4 separate regions of the Homo sapiens genome follow, and regions 1, 2 and 4 are each linked to region 3. Evidence: fine-mapped expression QTL. A gene starts in region 3. Each other region holds a variant in brackets. All regions are shown on one strand. Distances are between the middles of the regions.

Region 1 (5,569 bases), 24 kb after region 3:
GTGGGTTGCTGAGCTTTTGCTAGTGAACTCAGGTCTCATACCACGGGGGCATCACGTGTAGGGGTGTTACTCTAATTCTGTGAACCGGGTGCCGTGTCTGATCTATCTCCCTCTCACAGATTATTATCATTCGTCTTCACCCATTTATTCTGCTTGGTTGGTTCATCTTCAACCAGATATTCCAACATCAAAGCGCCTGGCTTTTCCAGCATGAATTTTCCTCCAGCCCACCTGTTCTGCTAATCTCATGTGATTTGTTTAGAACACCCTTAGTTGTCTTTGTGGCTGATCTCTTTTACTTTCTTTCCTCGTTCTTGTTGTTGCCTTTTCAGTTAACTAAAGAGTGTCCACATCACAGCAACCAAAAGGGTACAGAAAGTTCCACCTCTTTCAAGAGAATTTTAGCAGGGGCAGAAAGAGATTATGAACATTGTTGAGTGAAGCCATTTACACCCAGATCGGTGCCACGTTTACCTTTCCAAGTCCTAAAAGTGTTCAGGATAGGGAAGCTGATGCCGAACATCCTTCTGATGGCATAGGAGTGATTTACTTCCTGGTGGGAAAAGCCCTTTAGTGGTCCTCATGAGGGCCACCCTGGAGGAGCCATCTCAGTGTGGCTAGTGGCCTCTTAGCAATCAAGAATGACTTGGAGGTTCCTTTAATATTCTGGCCTTTACAGGAATTGAAAGGGAAGGAGCAGAGTGTTGTGGGAAGAGCCTGTTTTAAGTGATATTCATCGATTCACTGATTCATGGATATTTATTGAACCCCTCCTACTCGAGTTACATGCATGGCCCTCGCCCTTCCTGAGTTCACAGTTTATTGCATGCAGTTAACTACTCAGTAAGCAAGATTGCTGTTCCAGGTGGACAGATGTGCACTTAGCCTTGTTGTAGAACACCTGTCTGCAGGTGTGTACCTCTAGCCCTGTTCTGTATTTTCTAGGGCGCCTTTCTGTGTAGTCCTAATTACATGCCGTTTTTCTGGATAATGATCTAAGGGACTTCCTAGCTTGCTGTGAAAACACAGGTTTGCTAACAACTTAACAACTGTTGTGAAAAAAGAAAAAACTCTGATTGGATATAAATCGAATGTGAAAAATGGTTTCCATTTCCTCCCTCCCGATTCATGTAAATAATTTAAAGTTGATACAATTTGAGATGGTAGCATGAAGTCAGACTACTTTTAAAAATTAAGAGTTATGAATAAAACAAAGGAAAACAGCTCCGTTGCTTTAGAGAAAAGGTCAATAAAATGAAAGTGTGATAAAATGAAATGGAGTACAGTGAAAGTCACTTCCTGCAGCTGCTGCCCGTTCTCCCGATGGCTTTTTGGAATGGGGCAGCAATTCACTCAGCCAGCTTTTCTCACTGCTCAACTGCGTCACGAAGCATGGATGGGAATCAGCTGGGGATCTTGTTAAATGCAGATTCAAATTCAGGGTCCCGTGTGGCCCCTGAGAGGCTGTACTGTTAACAAGCTCTTCCGTGAGGCTGATGCTGCTGGTTGGAGGACCACACTCGAAGTAGCAGGGCTGCACATCCAGGCTTGATGGTTAGGAACAGAGAGGGGCAGAGCCAGGACGCCGTCATAGACCCTGGTGACTGCAAGGGGTCCTAGTTACACTGCAGTCAGTTCTGCCTACAGGTAAACAAGCCACTCCTTTTCCCTTAGACTTTTAACATCTCAATTTAAGAAAGCTACCTAGAGGCCGGGCATGGGGGCTCACGCCTGTAATCCCAGCACTTTGGGAGGCTGAGGCGGGAGGATCACTTGAGCCCAGGAGTTCAAGACCAGCCTGGGCAGCATGGTGACACCCTGTCTATACATTAAACCAAAAAAAAGGCTACCTAGAAAATGTCATTCTTGGCCAGGCACAGTGGCTCACGCCTGTAATCCCAGCACTTTGGGAGGCTGAGGCAGGCGGAACACCTCAGGTCAGGAGTTTGAGATGAGCCTGGCCAACATGGTGAAACCCCATCTCTACTAAAAATACAAAAAATTAGCCGGGAATGGTGGCAGGCGCTTGTAATCCCAGCTACTCGGGAGGCTGAGCCAGGAGACTCGCTTGAACCCAGAAAGTGGTGATTGCAGTGAACCGAGTTGGTGCCATTGCACTCCAGCCTGGGTGACAGAACAAGACCCCGTCTCAAAAGAAAGAAAGAAAATGTCATTCTCATTTTATTCAAAACCTAGCTTCAAGAGAGGTGGTGGATTTAGTATGTCAAGCATTGGGGTAGAACGCAAATCATGTGGAAGGAATTCTGCAGCTTTTTCTTTTCTTAATTTTTTTTTTTTTTTTTTTTTTTTTTGAGATGGAGTCTCGCTCTGTTGCCCAGGCTGGAGTGCAGTGGTGCGATCTCGGCTTACTGCAACATCTGCCTCCTGGGTTCAAGTGATTCTCCTGCCTCAGCCTCCAAGTAGCTGAGACTACAGGTGCGCACCACCACGCCCAGCTAATTTTTGTATTTTTAGTAGAGACAGGATTTCACCATGTTGGCCAGGATGGTCTCCATCTCTTGACTTTGTCATCCACTCGCCTCGGCCTCCCAAAGTGCTGGCATTACAGGCATGAGCCACTGCACCCGGCCGAATTCTGCAGCTTTTTCTAGGTAAATACTTGGTGACTCCGTTCATAACAATAAAAATATTGTATTGCATACTTATTATATGCATAAGAAACTCTCAGTAGGTCTTACCGATGCTGTTTGTGGACTTTGGGCCTGGCTGTCTTTCATCTGCTTTTAGGTCACCTCCAGTCAGACTGCATCGATTTCCGACCCAATGAAAACTGCTTCAGGGAGCAACAGAAATACTGCTGTTGTCCTAGGTCCAGTTTGTACTTCATGTTGAACCACCCTTTTATGCTTTTTCTTTTTAAATGGAGTTCGACTGTTATCAACTATAAAGCTTGCACATTTTTATGAGTTCTGTTCGTGTGATCTTTTAGTATTGTGCAAATGGCATCTTGAATAAGTCTTTTATGAGTGCTCTTTGGGGTTCATTTAAAGAAATAATAGTTGGCTATTGTTGCTCAGAGATGCAGAATGCCTGATTTTCCCATTCTTTTAAAAAAAATTGTTTAATTTTAACAAATGTCTAGGTCTTCCTGAGATCTCTTTTACTACAGTTGACGTAGCAAAAAGCCGTGTTTTTTGCACCATGTCCAGATAGCACAGCAGCCAGCTCTGCCAGCTACCCCTCCCTCTGTGTCTTTTGTCCCTCTGTAGAAAGTGGCTCGG[G/A]CACTGCTAAAGCGGTGGAATTCTCCAGTGGCTTTTTAGTAATTTACCTCCCTGGAGATTCTCAGCTGCTTGCAGAATCTCAGAAGACTCTGGAGGATCACTTAAATGGCTATCCTTGTGAGCACTTGCCTTCCTAGTTCACAGGGCTTTGATTTTTGTTCTGTGTCTTTAAATGAATTCAGTGGAGTTGGGTGTGCTGGACCCATACCTCTTGAAACACTCATTTCCACGCCTTCTGTATTAGAAGAGTCACTCAGCCAGATAAGAGCCTGGACATCAGGAGTGGGCTGTAGTCCAGATGGACCTCGGCTTGTTTCTGCTACGGGGCATCTGGATCTCCTGGATGGAATAGCAGGGAAAGGAAGTTGAGAAAAAGGATCTGTGAGTTCTTGCTCAGAGCATTTGAGCTTTCATTCGGGAGCTGTATAATCATTTTCCTGCCTGTGGCTCCATCTCTTCATTTCATACAGATCTTGAGGCCTCTTCCCACCATAAGAACATGCCTGTGGGCTGGGCGTAGTGGCTCACACCTGTAATTCCAGTACTTCAGGAGGCCAGGCGGGAGGATTGCTTAAAGCCAGGAGTTCAAGACCAGCCTGGGCAACATAGGAAGACTCAGTGTCTACAAAAATTAAAAATAAATTAACCAGGCATGGTGATGCGCACCAGTAGTCCCAACTCCTTGGGAAGCTGAGGCAGGAGAATCACTTGAGCCAAGGAGTTGGAGGCTGCAGTGAGCTGAGATCACTGCATTCCAGCCTAGGTGACAAGACAACCCTGTCTCTAAACAAACAAAAAATACCTGTGAAGCAGCCCCGCTTTGATGGGAGAGCCCCTCCACCTGTTCCTTCATTCCATTCATAGACAGAAGCTGCTGTCTATACAATCTTTCCCTTTGCTTAAGGGGAACTCATGCCTTAGCTGTCTGCTGTCTGTCCCTTCCCTATCACATCACAGTAACCCGTTTCTCCAGATCCAGCGGACATTTCTGGGTCTGCTCTCCTTGTACACTGGAGCCTCCGTCACCCCAGGAGTCTGTCCTGCTGTCCACGGCAGGGGCCTCTCTAGGCTTTCCTTATGTGGCTGATCTGTCCTTTCGTAGTCTTCTTTGCACCTTTGCTCTCCTCAGCTTTCTAGAGCCCAGGAACCTGTATGTTTTTTGATGGGCACCCTGCTCTTTGCTTGAGGAAGACGTGGCCTAGGATCCCAGGCCTGACCTCTCTAGAGCATCTCCTTTGCACCAGGGCTTCACTTCCCAGCCCCCTCCTGGATGGATGCCCAAGGCTATCCCCCGTCCAGACCTCCCTCCTGACCACCGGCCTGTGCAGTGGCTGTTGTCTGGATATCCTCACTGATGACATATATCCTCACTCCCCGGCCACCCTGCCTTTATACAGGTCACTCTTCTAGGGTGTTTTTGCTTAATGGAGTCATTTTCACTCTTCCTAAAGCATCAGGTGTTGTCCCCTTTGGGTGTCATCCCCTCTCGTTCTGCCATCCCAGGTCTGTGTGCTTAGCTTTGCTATTTAATCAGAAAATATTTATGGAACGGCACAGTGATCCAAGCCCTGTTCTAGGCACTGAGGGTCCGGACACTTCCCGCCCCAGATTGCAATTGCTGGTGCACATCTTCATGTCTGTCTCTCCTTAGGGCCAGAACTGCCACTCACTCATCTGGTCCTGCGCAGTGTTTTCTGAAAAAGTCAATGTGATCGTACCAATTTCCTTCGTTCTCTTCTCTCCTTAAGTTCTACTGTGTGTCTTCCCCTCACCTCCCACAGAAGCAAAAAATAGGAAGTGGAACTTCATAGTTACAAGATTAAACAGATCAAATTTCATCATCATTTCTGGCTTCTACAGATAGCTGAAGTTTTGTGCGTGTATGACGCAAGGTGTGAGTTGAATGCTTCCTTTGTTCCATCGATTTGCTCAGCTGTGTTTCCTTTCTGCTGTGTCCTTTGTTCAGGGCTGAAGAACTCCGCTCTGAAAAGTAACTGTGAGACGAATATTCTGCCTATTCTTAGGTGGCCCCTATGCCTATGAATATCAAAGCATTTTGTTGGGAAACAAACATGAGATTCGCAAATGTTTTTATCCAGTAATACTGTCATCCTTTTCCACTGAGACAAAGTAACAAAGTCTGAAACACAGGACAACATAGCTAGACAATTTATTTTGGGGCTGTTATCCCTAGGGTTGCCAGTTATAATACAGGACACCAATTGTATTTGCATTTCAGATAAGCAACAAATAAAATTTTAATATAAAGATATTCCAAATTTTGCATGAGACATATTTACACAAAATTATTTGTTTGTCATCTGAAA
Region 2 (5,569 bases), 210 kb after region 3:
GGGCGGCGCGCTGGCGCACCGGGCGCGACAGGGCGGGGACCGCGCGCGCCACGGTCTCCCGTTCGGGGGTGGCTCCCAGGACTGGGGGTTCTTCGGCCGCTCCGCCCCGCGATGGCTTCTCCGTGGCGCGGAGCCCATGGTGAGGTCCGGGGCGCGCGGCTCGCGGGAGAGTGCAGTGCGCGGGGAGGCGAGGCCCGGGGTGGGCGGGGAGGCTGGGGCCCGGGCGGGGAGACGCTACTGTCACTTGCCGCGCGCCCCCGGCCAGCCTCGCCCATCCCCGCCGGCGGCCTGGCCCAGGAGGCGCCTGTTGCCCTCGCCCGCGGGTGGCTCCGGTGGGCGCCGAGGAGAGGCGCTACGCCCTTCCCTTTGTGGCGGCCGCAGCCTGGGGTAGGAGGTCGCCCTCCTCTGCTCCCTGCCATCCTTGTTAAGTCCCTTCAGACTCCCTCTCCGCAGCCGCCACCCGAAAAGAATGGGCAAAGACGTGGGTGGAGCGGCGTGGAGGTGCCCCGATGGTGTCGGGGCCGCAGGCGGCGAACTGCGCAAAGTTCTGGCGCCGAGGGGGTCCCGGGCCCGGCCCCTGCTGGGGATACTGGGCTTTGCACCGCCTCGCCTGTCCCTAGAGCTCTTCAGAGCAGGGCCGATCCCCTGAACCGGGCTCCCGCTGACCTGGCCGTATCCTGTTTGCAAAGCTGGTATTTGATCTCCAAAACTCGATGCACCACGCATTTTCACACTTGATCGGATTTCTTAATCCTTTCCCTTTGCCCCCGAACCCTGCAGACTTGATTTGCTCTTCTGTTGGAGAAAAGGATTGCTTCAGGTGAAGGCCGGTGTTGATGCTCTCTTTTTAGAGGCAGTGGGTCATTTTAAATAAAAACTGGTGTCCTTTTAAAGTGCTGTTTACATTACCCTTTTACCCTATTGGATTCAAACTATGCGCTGGCACAGAGCGGTTCTTGCTACACCCTTAGAAGTGAGATTTTTCGAACCATGGTGAGTGATGGAGAAGTGGGTCAGCTTAAAAAACATGATAGGGAGGCCTGAGTCACAGATGGTTTACTCAGTTCGTAGAGAGATTCTTGAAATGATTGATCATTGAAAGTGTAAATCATTTGCATTCTACTTGTCTACTTTAAGATTTATTATAGAAAGGGACTTTTGACTGACCTCTAATTCATTATAAAATATTAACAAATGAAGAAAAAGAAAAGCTGACTATGTGCATCTCCCATTTGCAAGTTGTTTTTATCTTTGCCGTGAATACTTCAGTGGCGGCTGCAAGTATCGAATGTTCGAGTCTAGAATATTTTTTTTTTTAAAGAGAGGAAAGGAAATTGCATAGGAATCTGAACCTGAGCCCTGTTTATGCAGGGATAGAAACGTGTTTGTGATAGATAGCTAAATACAAATATGTTTTTGAAACGGTAGTTCTATTGCCAGAAATGGGCCCAGGTGCAGATGCAAGCTGATGGATTAGCTTCAGTACCTGTGTTTTCTTTCTGGAGAGACCCTGGACTTTTATCTTCTCTGCTGTAATTTCTGTTTATTGTTCCTCCTTTGATTGATATTCTAGGTTGGGGGCTTGATTAGGACTTCTTTGCTTACACTGTTGAGAATGCCCCTGGTACAAAGAATTCCTCATCTGTGTGCGCATTGATCTGAGCCTGTCCCCCGACACCTTTCAAGAAGCTAAAGTTCCCAGAGTAGCACCCAGAGGCATCTGTGCTGCCTTCGGAAGTTTTCAGTTTTGTATATCAGCACATTTTATATATTAGAAAGGTTAATCAAAATTTAGAGATGCCCCATGGACTGAAATGTTTTCACCAAGAGCAGATACCATGTTAATAGCTTCTAGTGGGAAAAGATTAACATAATGGATGTATTGTACTCTATTTAAATGTAAGGAGATTAGGAAAACTCCAAATGACTGCTCTCCTTGGATTGCCTGTTTGGATTTGAATTTAGACAATGTGTGCCAAATTTGGGGGAGTAAATGTGTTTTATTTGGCTCATGTACTGATGATATCGCAGTAGAAACCTAGGTTTTCTTTAAGTAGCTCAAGTTTGTAAATGTTAAAATTTGAAAGACTCTTTTTCTATACTCGGCCTCTTCATTCCCATCAGTTTAAATAAATAACAAATAATGAGCCTTTGGATGAATCAGTAAGAACATGTTTCACCTCTTAAAGGCAGTTTGTCAATTTGAGGCCACCAGGCAGCGGCCAGTGCAGAGAGGTAATTTACTGAATAGTGCCCTTGTGGCCTGAAAGAATTCATTTACCCCACCACTCAGTATAATGTATTTACTAGTCCTTTTAGACATATTAAGTTGAAACTAAAGCCTCAAATAAAAGGAAAATACCCAATTAGAGTCTTGTTTTGCACCAAAATGTAAGTATTTAAATATGTAAAACTGCATATGCTGTTCTTTTATTTTCATGGAATTTTCTTCATGGACTAAAAAGGGTATTTCGTTTTATAGATAA[T/C]GCTAAGAGTCCATGAATGAAATATCAGATGTTTTATGTTTAATTAAAAGCAATGGCGTAAGTATTATAAAATACTTGAGTCTCACTGTCTTTATATCTTGTTTTTCATGGAAAATGTACCTTTTTTTTTTTTTTTTGAGACAGTCTTTCTCTGTCACCCAGGCTGGAGTGCGGTGGTGCAATCTCGGCTCACTGCAACCTCCGCCTCCTGGATTCAAGCAATTCTCCTGTCTCAGCCTCCTAAGTAGCTGGGATTACAGGCGCGTGGCACCACACCCAGCTAATTTTTGTATTTTTAGTAGAGATGGGGTTTCACCATGTTTGCCAGGCTGGTCTCGAACTTCTGACCTTAGGTGATATGCTTGCCTCGGCCTCCCAAAGTGCTGGGATTACAGGTGTAAGCCAGTGTAAAGAGTTAAATGTACTCTTTAACTTTTTGGTCCACCCAAGCGTGGAAGTGGCAAACCACTATAAAACTTTCATGAATTACAAAAAACATGGGGGAAGAAGGGATTGTCAGTTTTAATTAGTGAGACTATATTCAGACAAGTATAATTTTATTATTTTCAAACAATGTTTGGCAATTAGAACCAGGCTAATAGAGGATTGCCTAAAGACATCTTTATATAACTTACTTTAACACACGATTTGCAATTAGAATTAGGGAGTAGGTCTTTATAAAGAGCTTGAAGGAGCCTGGAAAGACTTTCTACATAGATAAAAATTAACCTCAGTCCAGCTTCCTATATGAATTATTAGAAATAGTCCAGATTACTGAAGATTTCTGTTCTGCTATGGGTGGCAGTGGTACAAAAAGGTGACCTGGAGGATGATTTTTTTTTTTTTTTTGAGATGGAGTTTTGCTCTTGTCACCCAGGCTGGAGTGCAATAGTACGATCTTGGCGCACTGCAACCTCCACCTCCCGGGTTCAAGCAATTCTCCTGCCTCAGCCTCCCAAGTAGCTGGGATTACAGGCGTGCATCACCACGCCCAGCTAATTTTGTATTTTTAATAGAGACAGGATTTTACCGTGTTGGTTAGGCTGGTCTCAAACTCCTGACCTGAGGTGATCCCCACCTCTGCATCCCAAAGTGCTGGGATTACAGGCGTGTGCCACCATACCTGGCTAATTTTGTATTTTTAGTAGAGATGGGGTTTTACCATGTTGGTCAGGCTGGTCTTGAACTCCTGACCTCAGGTGATCCCCTGGCCTCGGCCTCCCAAAGTGCTGGGATTACAGGCCATGGTGCCCGGCCTGGAGGATGAATTTCCTAGGAGCTTTCACCGTTGGATCTGAGGTTAAGATGCTCAAGGATCTTTAATACTTCCCTCATTTTGCTGTGTTTTTGCCTTCTGTTACTTTCTTCTGAAGGGCTTTGGGGACATTGAGGACAGGCCAAATTGTTGAAGAATTATTTAGAACCCACTGTCTTCTCGCTGTCCTTTTGATGTCCGGCTTCTCCAGTTATGAAATACATTTGGTATTGGTCATGATCTCTTACTGAGCTAATGTTATGGTCCATTGTTGGAGACAGAGTCAAATAAAATTCGTGTTGAACTTTGGTAACAAAACCAAATCTGTCCCCTTGCTTAACCAACATTGACTTACAGAGAGCATATACTTCCTAGAAAAATAGATGTTTCTCATAGCTTTCCGTTAAGAGAGCTTTTCCCTCAATATTCACTGGAAGCAGCTACTAAGAAGATTTATATAGGAACCAAAATAAACATAGGTGAGTATGTTTTTGTTGGCAGATACATGACTAAATTAGTCCCTGGGGTAGACATGAAATAGGGTTAAGACCTTTTTTTTTTTTTTTTTTTTTTTTGAGACCAATTCTCGCTCTGTCCCCCAGGCTGAAGTGCAGTGGCGCGATCTCGGCTCACTGCAAGCTCTGCCTCCCAGGTTCACGCCATTCTCTTGCCTCAGCTTCCGGAGTAGCTGGGACTACAGTAGGCGCCCGCCACCACGCCTGGCTAATTTTTTTGTATTTTTAGTAGAGACGGGGTTTCACCATGTTAGCCAGGATGGTCTCCATCTCCTGACCTTGTGATCCGCCCGCCTCGGCCTCCCAAAGTGCTGGGATTACAGGCGTGAGCCACCGTCCCCGGCCTAAGACGTTTTTAAGAGTTCTTTTTCTTAGAAAGATTGAAGATCTGGTATTGGACAAAGATGAAAACTTTGGAATTCTTTTAACAAAGAACATAATCTGTCTTCTACCATCCCCAATTTAGGGGGTAAAAAAAGGAAGTTCTTCTTTGGGCACTATGTTGTTGTATCTGACTTCATATGTCTGTTGTTGAAATTGAGTTGGGAACTTCCCCTTTGTCAGCTGTGTGGTATCAGTGGGAAAATGCAGAAACATTATGACTTGCAATAAGTTTTTCTTATGGAAAATTTAGGGATAACTCAAAGCTGCCCTTTCTGAAATTTGATCTGTTATCAACTGTATAAATCTAAATGGAAAAATAGATTAACGACAGTCTTTGCCTGAGGGACCTCCTCAAATCAAGAACTACTGTTTGAAATGATCAAGTGTCTGCTAAGACTTGCATCTGAATGGGTGATGTCACCCTTTGGCCCAGAACAAATTTTTTCCAGGGTTGTCTAAATATAGGACACATACTTTGCCATCTTTGTTTGTTAGTGCAAATGTACGTTATACATCTATACTAGTTAAAATCACTTTATTTTAACAGAACCAAGTTCTACTCCAAGTTCAAGAAATTGATTGTTGTTTTCTTTGAAAACATGTTAATGACGTTTTAAAAATACGCTTATTCAAAAATCAAACAATAGGGCCAGGTGTGGTGGCTCATGCCTGTCATCCCAGTGCTTTGGGAAGCCAAGGTGGAGGATCGCTTGAGGCCAAGAATTCAAGATCAACCTGGGGAACATAGCAAGACCCTATCTCGATGAAATAAAAAATGAGCTAGACATGGTGGTGCATGCGTATAGTTCCAGCTACTTGGGAGGCTGAGATGGGAGAATTGCTTCAGCCCAGAGAGCTGTGATCGCACTACTGTACTCCAGCCTGGGCAACAGAATGAGACTCTGTCTAAAAATATACATATATATATA
Region 3 (5,569 bases):
CAAGACTCAGTGTTGCTATGAGGGTACATAAACTTCTCCTAAAGTTCCAATTCGTCCTGGAAAGTATTGTTATACACGATAATAACAACCACCTCCATCAGACCTGAGCGTCTCGCAGGGGTGTCCAAGGGAGAGAATACAGTCATGGGTTCTTCATTTCTATTTTTGGTTGAGCCAGTAAAGCCCCTTCCTCATCCCTCTTTTCCACTTATCACTAGAGATGGAAACTGAAAACGATGGCTTTAGGCTGCTAAAAGTCTAAAAACACAACAGCAACAACAACAACAAAATAAGGCAGGTTGGACAAGCTTGATACAGTTAAGATTGTGAACCCAACTTGATTCAGTTTATTAAGATTTCTTCCACCCTGAAACATTCTGGAACTCTATACTAAGATCACAAACACCAGTGTTTTGAGTGAACAATAAGACTTAGAAAAATGGCATAGAATGGGATTTTTTTTCTATTTTAAATATTTCCATCTGAAATAATTATAGACTCATAAAAAGTTACAAAAATAGTACAGAGAGGTCACATCTATCCTTCTCCCAGCTTCCCCCAATTGTAACATCTTATATAACTGTAGTACACTGTCAATGCCAGGAAATGAACATTGGCACCATAGTATTCACTAGATTTGCACTTCACTGGGATTAGAGCAGGTTCAAACAATTTGGACACTCCTGGAGGTAATTTGAATCATTTGCATAAAATTTATTCTCAGAAGTAACATGGTATAGGGAATTTACACTTATCAGATCTTTGTATTGTGGGCAAGTTGTTTAATGGCACCAAGCCTCGGTTTGTTCATCTGTGAAATGGAAACAATGATACCTACCAAATAAGTTGTTATGAGGAAATAGCTCCAGTTCAGTGAGTGCCATATATTAGGAACTTTGATGCCATATATTAGGCTTAGATGCAGGAATCAGAAGAAGGAGGGAATCCAGCAGTCCCTATTTCTTTCTGCCTTCCTGACTACCTGCCACCCTGTGCAGGTGCGTGATTTGCGCAAATTGCAGCATTGGTCCTAAGGGTGACTATAAAACCCATATGGGCTTCTGTACGTCCTAGTTTTTCTCATGTCTCACAGTCATTTGTCTTTTATAAGCCAACTGGGCAAGTGCCATCCTTCATTCTTTTTTTGGTACGGTGCCTGCCATGTCTAAATGCTCAATTAATGAAATTACAGTAATAACCCTCCTTCTGGCCTGGTGTTCTGGAAGCAGTGTGGGGTGGATGATGGGTCTGGAGTGGATTTTCCTAGGTCCCCAGTGGAAGTCGGAAGGTCACCGCAGTGCTAGTTGGAAGAGAAGGTGGAGAGGGACAAGTGGAGGTGAAGGTTGTGTGGAAGGCATACCGACAGGAGTGGGTTGAGAGAAAGAAAAGTTGAGGTTGGAATGGAGGGGGTCCCTAGGCTCAAGGAAAGTCTAGAGGTTTGGTTTTGTTTTGTGTGTGGTTTTTTTGGTGGTTTTATTTTTTGATTTTTTTTTTTTTTTTTTTTTGAGACGGGGTCTCAGTCTGTCATCCAGGCTGGAGTGCAGTGGCACGATCTTGGCTCACTGCAACCTCCCCACTCCCAGGTTCAAGCGATCCTCCCACCTCAGCCTCCTGAGTAGTTGGGACCACAGGCATGGGCCACTATGCCTGGTTAATTTTTTTGTATTTTTGGTAGAGACAGGGTTTCACCATGTTGGCCCAGCTGGTCTCTTAACTCCTGAACTCAGGCCATCCACCTACCTCAGCCTCCCAAAGTGTTGGGATTATAGGCATGAACCATCACACCCAGCCAAGTCTGGAGGTTTTTGTGAAGAGTTTCAATTTTGGGGTCAGACTGACTGTTTTATTAGAATTTTGGCTCTGCCACTGACCAGGTATGCACTTTTGGACAAATTCCTTAACCCTCTTTAGCCTCTTTTCTCATCTGTGAATGGGGGGGATAATGCTAACTACCTCTTAGATCATGTATTGTGAAGATGGACAAAGAGTCTCTGCTTGACCGAACTACAGTCAGGCTCCGGAACCTTCTTCTAGGCTCAGTTGTGCCCTTCCTTGTAAAATCTGCTTTCAGGAAGAACCCTGCTAAGTCAGTTTACCAAGAACCCTCCACCCTGGATATCTGATCAGCTTCCCCATCCGCCCTGTCCTGCCCAGCCCTGCCAGGGGATGTCTGACTTTCAAGAATCCCCCTTCCCCCTGATGTTTCCTCTTATAATTTTTCATTCCCTGCATCCCACCCTGGTCCTCGGTTATAAATCCCCACTTGTTCCTGCTGTATTCAGAGTTGAACCCAACCTTTCTCCCCGACTGCAGAATCCCATGGTAGGGCTTATACCTATTGCGATGGTTCCAAAGAGGGTCTTCTTTGCTGTGCTTTCACACGTGTCATGGAATAGTCTTTTTTCTTTAATAGGACAGAAAGTTTTAAAGCACCTAGGGCCTCAAAAGATGTGGATTTCCTCCCCACCCTAACCCCTAGAACCATCCAAGTACCATTCCTCCTGAAGCTGTCCACCCGCCAACACGTAGGTACTGCAGGCCTACTGCAGTCTATACTGGCTTGGGGAGTGTTTTTGCGGATCTTTAACACTGGGTGTGAAATCTACGTTGGGGGACACAACTACATTAGGATGGCACCTGGTGGGGGGGTCACACCCAGATACAATGTCTCCTGCGGCCCCTTGGGTGACCTGGTGTGATGAAAAGGGCTCCGCCCTGAAAGGCAGGTCTGGCTCTTCTGCGGGGCTGCGGGGATGGGGCGCGCCGGGGCAGTGTCGCCGGGGGTCGGGCTGGGGGCGCGACGCAGCGGCGCCGGGCGGGGGCGCCCTCGGCGCCGCAGCCGCCAGGTGGCACCACGGGCCCGGGGCCTGGGCGCGGGCAGCGGCGGCGGCGGCGGGCGAGGCAGGAAGGGGTTAAGGAGCTGGCGGAGCAGCAGCAGCCGCCGCCGCCGCCGCCGCCGCGGCTCTTCGGGGAAACCCGGCGCGGGGCGCGGGAGGGAGCGGCCGGGGCGGCGGGGCCGGGCCAATCGGGCGGCGGGCCCGGCGCGCGGAGCCAGCGACATGGAGGGGGGCGCGGCGCCCGGCCGCCCGTGACGCGCCGCCGCCCGGCCCGCTCTCGGCGAGCCCGAGCCGCCGCCGGCCCCGCGGCGGAGATGAGCAGGTCCGCGACGCTGCTGCTGTGCCTGCTGGGCTGCCACGTCTGGAAGGCGGTGACCAAGACGCTGCGGGAGCCCGGCGCCGGAGCCCAAGGTCAGTGGGCGGCGGCGGGGCCGGGGGCTTTGTGTCGCGCCGGGCCTGGCGCGGAGGCGGCGGCGGCGGCGGCGGCGGCGGGAGGGTCCCGGGCCGCGTGGTGGCGACGCAGCCCGAGCCGCATCGGGAGCCTCCGGGCCTGCAGCACCCGCAACGCGCTCCCGAGGGGGCGGCGCGGGCCGGCGACGCGGGGTGACCCGGGCGGAGGCTTCGGGGGCCGGGGATCGGGGGCTGGGTCGGGCGGGGGCGCGGGCAGCTCCAGCTGCTGTCGCCGCTGCGGCGGGGGCTCGTCTGGATGCGCCCGGGGGTCCCCTTTATGCCGCGCCTCGGACACGCGGCTCTGTCTCCCATGTCGCCGCGGACAGAGGGGCCGCCCAGGGCGCGCCGCCCGATCGCGCTCCCGGCTCCCCACGCCGGGCTCGGGTCTGGGAAGTCCCAGCTCCTGGGCTGCGCTGGGGCCTTTTGTTGTGGCGGGAGGGGGTGGCTGACGCCCCGGGGTGCCCCCTGTGTCCCGGGGCCCCGAGGTCCGCTGCCGCCACTAGCCACTAGCCTGCCGCAGTTTGGGAAAGTTTGGGGGGTTCTCTCCCCCTGCCTATCTGACGTCTCTTCCAGACCATAAGGGATTTGCTCAGCGGCCCATGAGTCTTCTCTGTAAGGGAAGAAAGAATTGAACTGGGAGGCCCTCATCGCTCACCAAAAAAAAAAAAAAAAAAAAGAAAAATCCTTTCCAGATCAGTTTGTCGCCAGCTCGTGCCTTTTGTCTCGTCTTTGGCCTCCACAAATCTGCTTTCCAGCCCTGGGAGTAACGTGGTCGCCTCTGAGAATGGCCACGAGCCTGTCTTTTGTTTTTAAAATCAGCGTTTTTTGAGGGGAGTCCCCCACACCCACCCTGAGGCTTGCTTGGCACATTTTTGTGGGGACAGCGTCGAGGACTCCTCTGTTGCTGGCGTTTTCAAAAGGGCCACTGAGGCCCGCAGATGAGCCTCTGCATTCACCCAGGGCACCGCTGCCTGGACTCTTGCCGGGGGCTCAGGTCTCTGCGAGGGAGCTCCCTGCAGCCCTGCAGAACCCCGGGATTCCGAGCCCGAGGCCTGTCCCCTCAGAAGGGTGTGTGTCCTGCAAAGTTGGCCCTGCAGGCCAAAGAAACGAGGAGTGCTGCATCCGAGGGTCTCCTTGCTGGAACCCCCTTTCCTCGGCTAACATGCTCAGGGTGCCTGGGAGCAGAGACGCCCGGGCTTCCACCACGATGTTGCTACGGGGAGGAAAGGCTCTGCCAACACTCTGTTGGGTTGAGTTTGTTGCCTACATGTTGAGTTGAAGGTTTTCATATTCTGGCACTTGCAGTATCATTTCCTGGTATATCTTAAATGCATTGCTGCTTCTATGGCCATGGTAGAATATGACCGTTATGAATTGTGTATAATTTTAGTAATGCATATCATGGAAGAGCGGACAGCTACAAAATACAAAAAGACCTATATGTCTCTTCGTGTAGGAAACGAATGTTTAGGACATTAGATCATCAGTGTTGCATTGCAGCTTCTTTTATTAATACCCTACTGCTTTTTTGAATCAGCTATTTTAGAGAATGATATTTGCACTTCAGCGAGGCCGTTAATTTTAAAGAGCAAGTTGAATTTTTCCTTTTGCACTTGAAATACCAATATATGGAAATATTAAATTCATGCACTTCTGAATTAGAGAAAGGAAGGCATGTCTTCAATATATATATATATATATATTCAATATATATATAACAGGTTTAGGTCTAAGACCACGTTTTACCCAGCTCTTGCTGCTAAAAATCCGCCTCTCAGGAATGGAATATTATGCGAAATGGGAGGGAAATGGTCAACATGAGAAGAGGTTTCTGCCATGGCTAGCAGTGGCTTAGTTTAGGGTATGGTTGGAGTGGGAGATCAAGTATCTTGGCATAGTTTACCCCTTGGATTACTTCCTTTGTTGTTATCTACTGTAAGGATGGCTTTTTAAAGCCTTGAGCCCAGGAACTCTTTCAGAAATCAGGTCTCACTACCTGGCATTTGGATTTTGAGCTAGCAGCATTTTTAAGGGAATGGACAATTTCTCCTTTGACATTAGAAGGTCAGTCCCAACTCACTGAGTTCTTCAAAGCATCTTAATGTTCACTTGCTGTAGTATGACGTAGTTTTAAAATTCATGTGTTCTCTGCTTTCCTGGATCATGTACACGATGAAGACAAATGCTGCATCTGATTTCACTTTGCATTTCCCACAGTGGGTTGTAGGTTGTTATGCATACAGTTGGTGCTCAGATGGTGCTGAGTAGGTAAGCATCAACCA
Region 4 (5,569 bases), 120 kb after region 3:
TTAGAATCCGCCCTCTCCTGGCAGGTCTCTAAGTCAGCTGGGTCAGTACCACTATTCTGGCATGCCACAGCTAAAAGATCAGAGAAACTAAAAGCCATCCACCAGAAAATAAGTGATAATTCCTTATCAGAGAAAGACCCAAGACGGGTACCTTCCACCTCTGTTTGTGTCCAACTGCACCATTCTCTGGACCCCTTTGCACTGGAATGGTCCCCACTCCTCCTGGTGGAAGAGGTGTCAGGATTCTGGAGTCCTGAATTATTTTCTTGTCTACCCCACTTTCCTTTCCCCCACACTTTAAACTAATCACAGCATTAAAATTTTAAATCAAAGGCTGTTCTGAGTTGCATTCTGCTAGGAGAGTAACTCACTGCATTTCCCAGGGATACTTGGCTTGAATTTCACTTAATTTTCCAGTGCTTTACATAAACTGATTATTCTGAAAAAGCTTTTAAACCTGAAACATTTGATCCATTTTGTAGCATATTAATAAGTTTCTGGTTATACATAAAGGCAACATGGTGATTTGTTACTCATTTTTCTTCTCTCTGTTTTCCAAAACGTTTCTTCTTTAATTTTTGTGTGCTGATGAGGATGTGATTAACTTGTCAGTAAATATGTCAGTACTTGGTCATCAGAAAGATGGCATAGCAGTCATCTTAAGTAAACATTATTAGGAAAAAAAAATGTTGACTATTACTTGAAATGTGCCGGTCTGGGAGAAAAGTCTTGTTTTGGGGAGCATGAAGAAGTGGTTTAAGGCTGGGTGCGGTGGCTCATGCCTGTAATCCCAGCACTTTGGGAGGCCGAGGTGGGTGGATCATTTGAGGTCAGAAGTTTGAGACCAGCCTGGCCAACATGATGAAATGCTGCGTCTACTAAAAATACAAAAATTAGCTGGGTGTGGTGGCAGGTGCCTGTAGTTCTAGCTACTCAGGAAGCTGAGGCAGGAGAATCGCTTGAACCCAGAAGGTGGAGGTTGCAGTGAGCCAAGATCGTGCCACTGCACTCCAGCCTGAGCAACAGATCTAAACTCTGTCTCAAAAAAAAACAAAAAAACAAAGTTTTAAAATATCATAGCCAGCATCCAGCCTCCCGGACAAAATGGTGCACGATCCACAAAACCCTAACTTGGAGGGACAGCCTCCGTGCTCGGGACTCATTAAATTTTTCTGTGCCCCACTTCCAGTAGCTCTTGAATAAATTATGCAGTCTGAGAAAATGGGGGAAAACGAACACTAAGACACAGAACTATTGATTTTAGAGGAGTTTGTCCTATTTTAAGATCATTCCGTGATTTCAAAGGGAAGAGAGGTCTTTGCAATGTGACATGAAATTTCTCTTCCACGGAAAGAATGGATGACTTGACCTAGAAATGACTAGGCTTTCTTGGAGACCTAGCAGCGAAGGCATCCACCCATAGTGAATTCACACGCGCCCTCGGGGACTTGGAACCTGGGCTCCCTTGAGCACAGACACCTCAGTAACTCACCAGCTCCATGGCGGCCCCTGGGGTCAGTTTGCACACAGCTTGTCTTTTGCCCACAGTCACTCATCTCCTGTTTTACTAAAGGCATCTAAGAGCTCACAGCCTAAAGAGAGCACGCCTGGACCAGACGTGTCTTTGGAAGATGACACAAGTTCATCTCCCGAAGACGCAGAAAATGACTAGCGTCATAACCAGAGTTCAGTGAAGGTGGATGGAAACAGAGAGGCTGCGGAAGAGACTGGAAAGGGCTCCGAAAGGCTGTTTTCTGGGGGTACCATGAAGGTTGTGTTGTTTGGTTTAGAGGGTGGATCCAGAGTTGTAAGTAAGTGGAGAAGCATCTTCTCTTTCTAGCTCTTGGGGGCCCCCTCCTCTCACCGGAGAGCATCGCACTCTTCCCCCAGCTGCTGAGAAAGCACAGAATGTTCCGTGGTGTTCCCAAGGGGTTTTTACAAAAATTGCTTTCACTAATAACTCCAGGAAGACAGAGAAGAGTCAATAAAATGACAGGTGCAGACTTTTCCTGCAATTCCAAAAAGTTGGTAGAATACAGAGCCCAACAGAACCTTAGATGTCAGCTGAGCAGAACCTGTCACGTGACGAGTGACCAGGTAGATGGCCCAAGGTGATACAGCTCCTCTCCTCGCTTGGGCCAGTGGTGTTCTGCCCCGCAACACGATCCTGCTGCATTTGCCTGACACCTGCTTGTCTTTGTGCAGACTTAAAGGGAGCCAGGCAACATCCAGATGGAACGGGAAGGATGACCACTTTCTATATAAAACTCAGTATTTTGTGTAAAATTGGAGTTTCATAACAAAGAGAAGGAAAATAGTTTAGCCCTTCAAAATGTGAATTGTTGCAGAATAGGCCAGGCGCGATGGCTCACACCTGTAATCCCAGCACTTTGGGAGGCCGAGGCGGGTGGATCACTGGGAGGGAGGTCAGGAGTTCAAGACCAGCCTGACCAACCTCATCTCTACTAAAAATACAAAAACAAAGAAAAAAAAATTAGCAAGGAGTGGTGGTGTGTGCCTGTTGTCCCAGCTACTCAGGAGGCTGAGGCAGGAAAATTGCTTGAACTGAGAAGGCAGAGGCTGCAGTGAGCCAAGATTGCACCATTGCACTCCACTCTGGGTGACAGAGCAAGACTCTGTCTAAAAAAAAAAAAAAAAAAATCGTTGCAGAATAAACAACATGGGGACATAGAGGGAGAGTCATTGGGAAGGCATAGAGAAGCAGGCATTTAATGAAGCCCTGAGGGAGGAAAGAGGCCTCAAGAAGGCAGATATAATTCCCCACAATGTCTTAAGACAGCTAGAGGACACTAAAGGGACATGAAATCCCATGAACCTAATGCACATTGCTGTCCATTAATATGCTCGTTTCTGCAATGCTCTACTTACTTCTGAATGTTTCAAGCT[G/A]AGTGTACTTATTTCCATAGATGCAGGAAGGCATCTAGTCTACCCTCCTTAGTTTTGAAGGTAAGAAAAACAGACCCCAGAGGAATGAAGTCACTTTCAGAGGTGACATAGGCAGTGAGTGGCAGATCTGGTACTGGGACTCCATCTTCCTGGGCTGGGAATGTGCAGGAAGGGAGAGTTGAAAGGTGACAAGGGAGGAGAAGGGAGACACCATTTCTAGGGCTTTTCTCCTCTATCTACCAAGTACCTGCTACCTACGTACTTGGACATCTTGACTAGAGTTTGATGAAAGAAAACAGCACTCCCTGATGGAAAACATTATCTCTCAGTTGTTTATACAGTCTAGTAAATTATTTAATGTCTCTGTAGTTTCTCTTTTTTTGTTTTGTTTTGTTTTGAGACAGGGTGTCACTCTGTCACCCAGGATGGATTGCAGTGGTGTGATCATAGCTCACTGCAGCCTTCACTTCCCAGGCTCAAGTGATCCTCCCACATCAGCCTCCTGAGTAGCTGGAACTGTAGGCATGCACCACCATGCCCAGCTAATTTTTTGTATTTTTTTGTGCAAACGGGGTTTCACTATGTTGCCCAAGCTGTTCTTGAACTCCTGGGCTCAAGCAACCTGCCTCGGCCTCCCAAAGTGCCAGTATTACAGGCATGCGCCACTGCGCCTGGCCAGCTTTTCTGTAGTTGTAAGTTCCATCTTCCTGAGAGGGCCTAACAGAATCTAGAGCAGTAGATTGTAGACCTGGCTTTGCTTCTCTATCAACTTTGAGCTGCTGGCACATTTGTGTTTCAAGACACAAAATCTTTGGACCAGAAACATGGTAAATTCTGAGTTTTGTTGGTTGGTTGTTTTTTTACCATAAAATGACATAACCAGACTAAGAGATTTCAAAACTTGGATCTGTGATTCCAACTTCGATCTTTCCACGAAATCTCCATTCCCACACCTTTGCCTTCATTAAAAAACAGACGGGTATGAATGATAAAAGGTAGGGTGGCATTAGCTGTGTAGAAATTGCTGTATGAAGGATTTAGCTGTAATTCATTGTTGAGACTCTAAAATTCACTAGGTTTTCTTTAAATGTTTAAATGTAGACCAGATTGGAGGTTTACATCAGCTCAGTTTGGTAGGTAGGTAAGTATATAAGTAGCTGAATAAAAAGTCCTATAGATTGTATTTTAATGCAGCTTAAATTTTTTATCGCTGTGTTTTTGTCATTGTGCTCAAAGAAATATGTAAAATTATGACAACACAGTTTGTGCGATATTGTATTTCACTAGAGGAAAATGTAAAATGGATTGCTTGAGTGCATAAATATATCGGTCTCATAAGCATTCTCTAATTTATCTGTAGGCAGTCATTAAAGCTTTGGCTTGGACCAAAGGCCTTTAATGGAAAATAATTGGTATACTGAGGTCCTTTTAAACAGATCAAAATAACAATGGCAATTAAAATAACTCATAAATATTTCAAGTCCAGTCCTCAATAGCATACTTTTTAGCAGAAGTTAATATTTTTGAAGCAATCCTTGAAGAAATTTGCTATGTTAAAAAAAAAGCAGCCTCTGCTCTAAAACATTTGGTTTTATTAAGGTTATCTGCCAAGTAATTAACATGTGCATGGGGCTCACTTTGTGTAAAAGTTATTTCCGGTGATTTCCACTTACACCTTTGTCTCACATTATAGAAAAATCCTTCTCTTTTGAGATCGTTTTTGAAAGCAAAACACAATAATGAAAAATAGCAAGCCTGACCGGGCACAGTGGCTTAAGTCTATAATCCCAGCACAGGCCTGGGATTGCCAAGGCAGGCAGATCACCTGAGGTCAGGAGTTTGAGACCAGCCTGGCCAATATGGCAAAACCCCATCTTCACTAAAAATACAAAAATTATCCATCAGGGTAGTGGAAGCCTGTAATACCGGCTACTTGGGAGGCTGAGGCAGGAGGATCGCTTGAACCCAGGAGGTGGAGGTTACAGTGAGCTGAGATTGTGCCATCGCACTCCAGCCTGGGCAACGGAATGAGACTTCATCTCAAAAAAAAAAAAAAAAGAAAAAAGAAAACCTGAGCCTAGATTCCAGCTCAGCCCATACTGAGTGTATGCCCTTAGGCCACCTACCATTACTACTCTCTCTGAGCCTGTTTCTTTGTGTGTAAAAATGACGATTTTACCTGCCTTACTGGGTTGTGGTGAGGATTATGTATGTAAAGTGCTTCATGCAGTCCCTGGCATATAGGAGGTAATGGTAGCTGCGACTATTTTTTTGCAAAGGTTTCCACAGCCCCACATGGGTACTTTGCATGCAAATGATGGAAAATGCCTCTTCCTTCTAGGAAACAGCACCAGGCATGACCTGACCCCAGTCACAGCCGTCAGCGTCCACTTGCTGAGCAGTAATGGAACGCCGGTGCTGGTGGATGGTCCCATCTATGTCACTGTGCCCCTGGCCACGCAGAGCAGCCTGAGGCACAATGCCTATGTCGCGGCGTGGCGGTTTGACCAGAAGCTGGGTAAGCAAGAGTTCTGTGCCGACAATCGGCTACCAGATGGCTTCGTTACTGTTTGGTTTTCCTTCTAAGAAGCTCATGGAAGTCTCCTTTCCTTGAAGTCAGTGAATGCTGCTGCTCACATTGCATTGTGTGGTTTCTCATGGG

Alleles and levels. Positions count from the first base shown, and alleles are read on the strand shown. Sizes are in standard deviations (SD) of each study's normalised expression. Not every link is listed here.
For the expression in stomach of the gene that starts at base 2,915 in region 3, allele A in region 1 goes with a lower level than allele G (moderate effect, 0.40 SD a copy in GTEx).

Evidence for each region.
Region 1: its variant is fine-mapped to the expression of FAM171A1 in stomach (GTEx, PIP above 0.99).
Region 2: its variant is fine-mapped to the expression of FAM171A1 in whole blood (INTERVAL, PIP above 0.99).
Region 4: its variant is fine-mapped to the expression of FAM171A1 in whole blood (INTERVAL, PIP 0.98).

What each region holds. Positions count from the first base shown.
Region 1 is chr10:15,344,578-15,350,146 of GRCh38, reverse strand. The region is part of intron 1 of FAM171A1 (family with sequence similarity 171 member A1); the gene reads left to right. Among named protein-coding and RNA genes, the nearest start is that of FAM171A1, 24 kb to the left of the region's middle. The variant G/A (reference allele first, on the strand shown) is at 3,243.
Region 2 is chr10:15,162,930-15,168,498 of GRCh38, reverse strand. All of the region lies in intron 1 of NMT2 (N-myristoyltransferase 2), which reads left to right. Among named protein-coding and RNA genes, the nearest start is that of NMT2, 3.0 kb to the left of the region's middle. RefSeq lists silencers at 1-436, 1,963-2,163. The variant T/C (reference allele first, on the strand shown) is at 2,487.
Region 3 is chr10:15,368,635-15,374,203 of GRCh38, reverse strand. It overlaps FAM171A1 (family with sequence similarity 171 member A1), which reads left to right and starts at 2,915. Exons shown (of 8, transcript NM_001010924.2): 1 at 2,915-3,248. The coding sequence starts at 3,152. RefSeq lists silencers at 2,869-2,918, 2,929-3,158.
Region 4 is chr10:15,248,495-15,254,063 of GRCh38, reverse strand. It overlaps FAM171A1 (family with sequence similarity 171 member A1), which reads left to right. Exons shown (of 8, transcript NM_001010924.2): 5 at 5,249-5,425. Among named protein-coding and RNA genes, the nearest start is that of FAM171A1-AS1, 43 kb to the right of the region's middle. RefSeq lists an enhancer at 5,333-5,569. The variant G/A (reference allele first, on the strand shown) is at 2,908.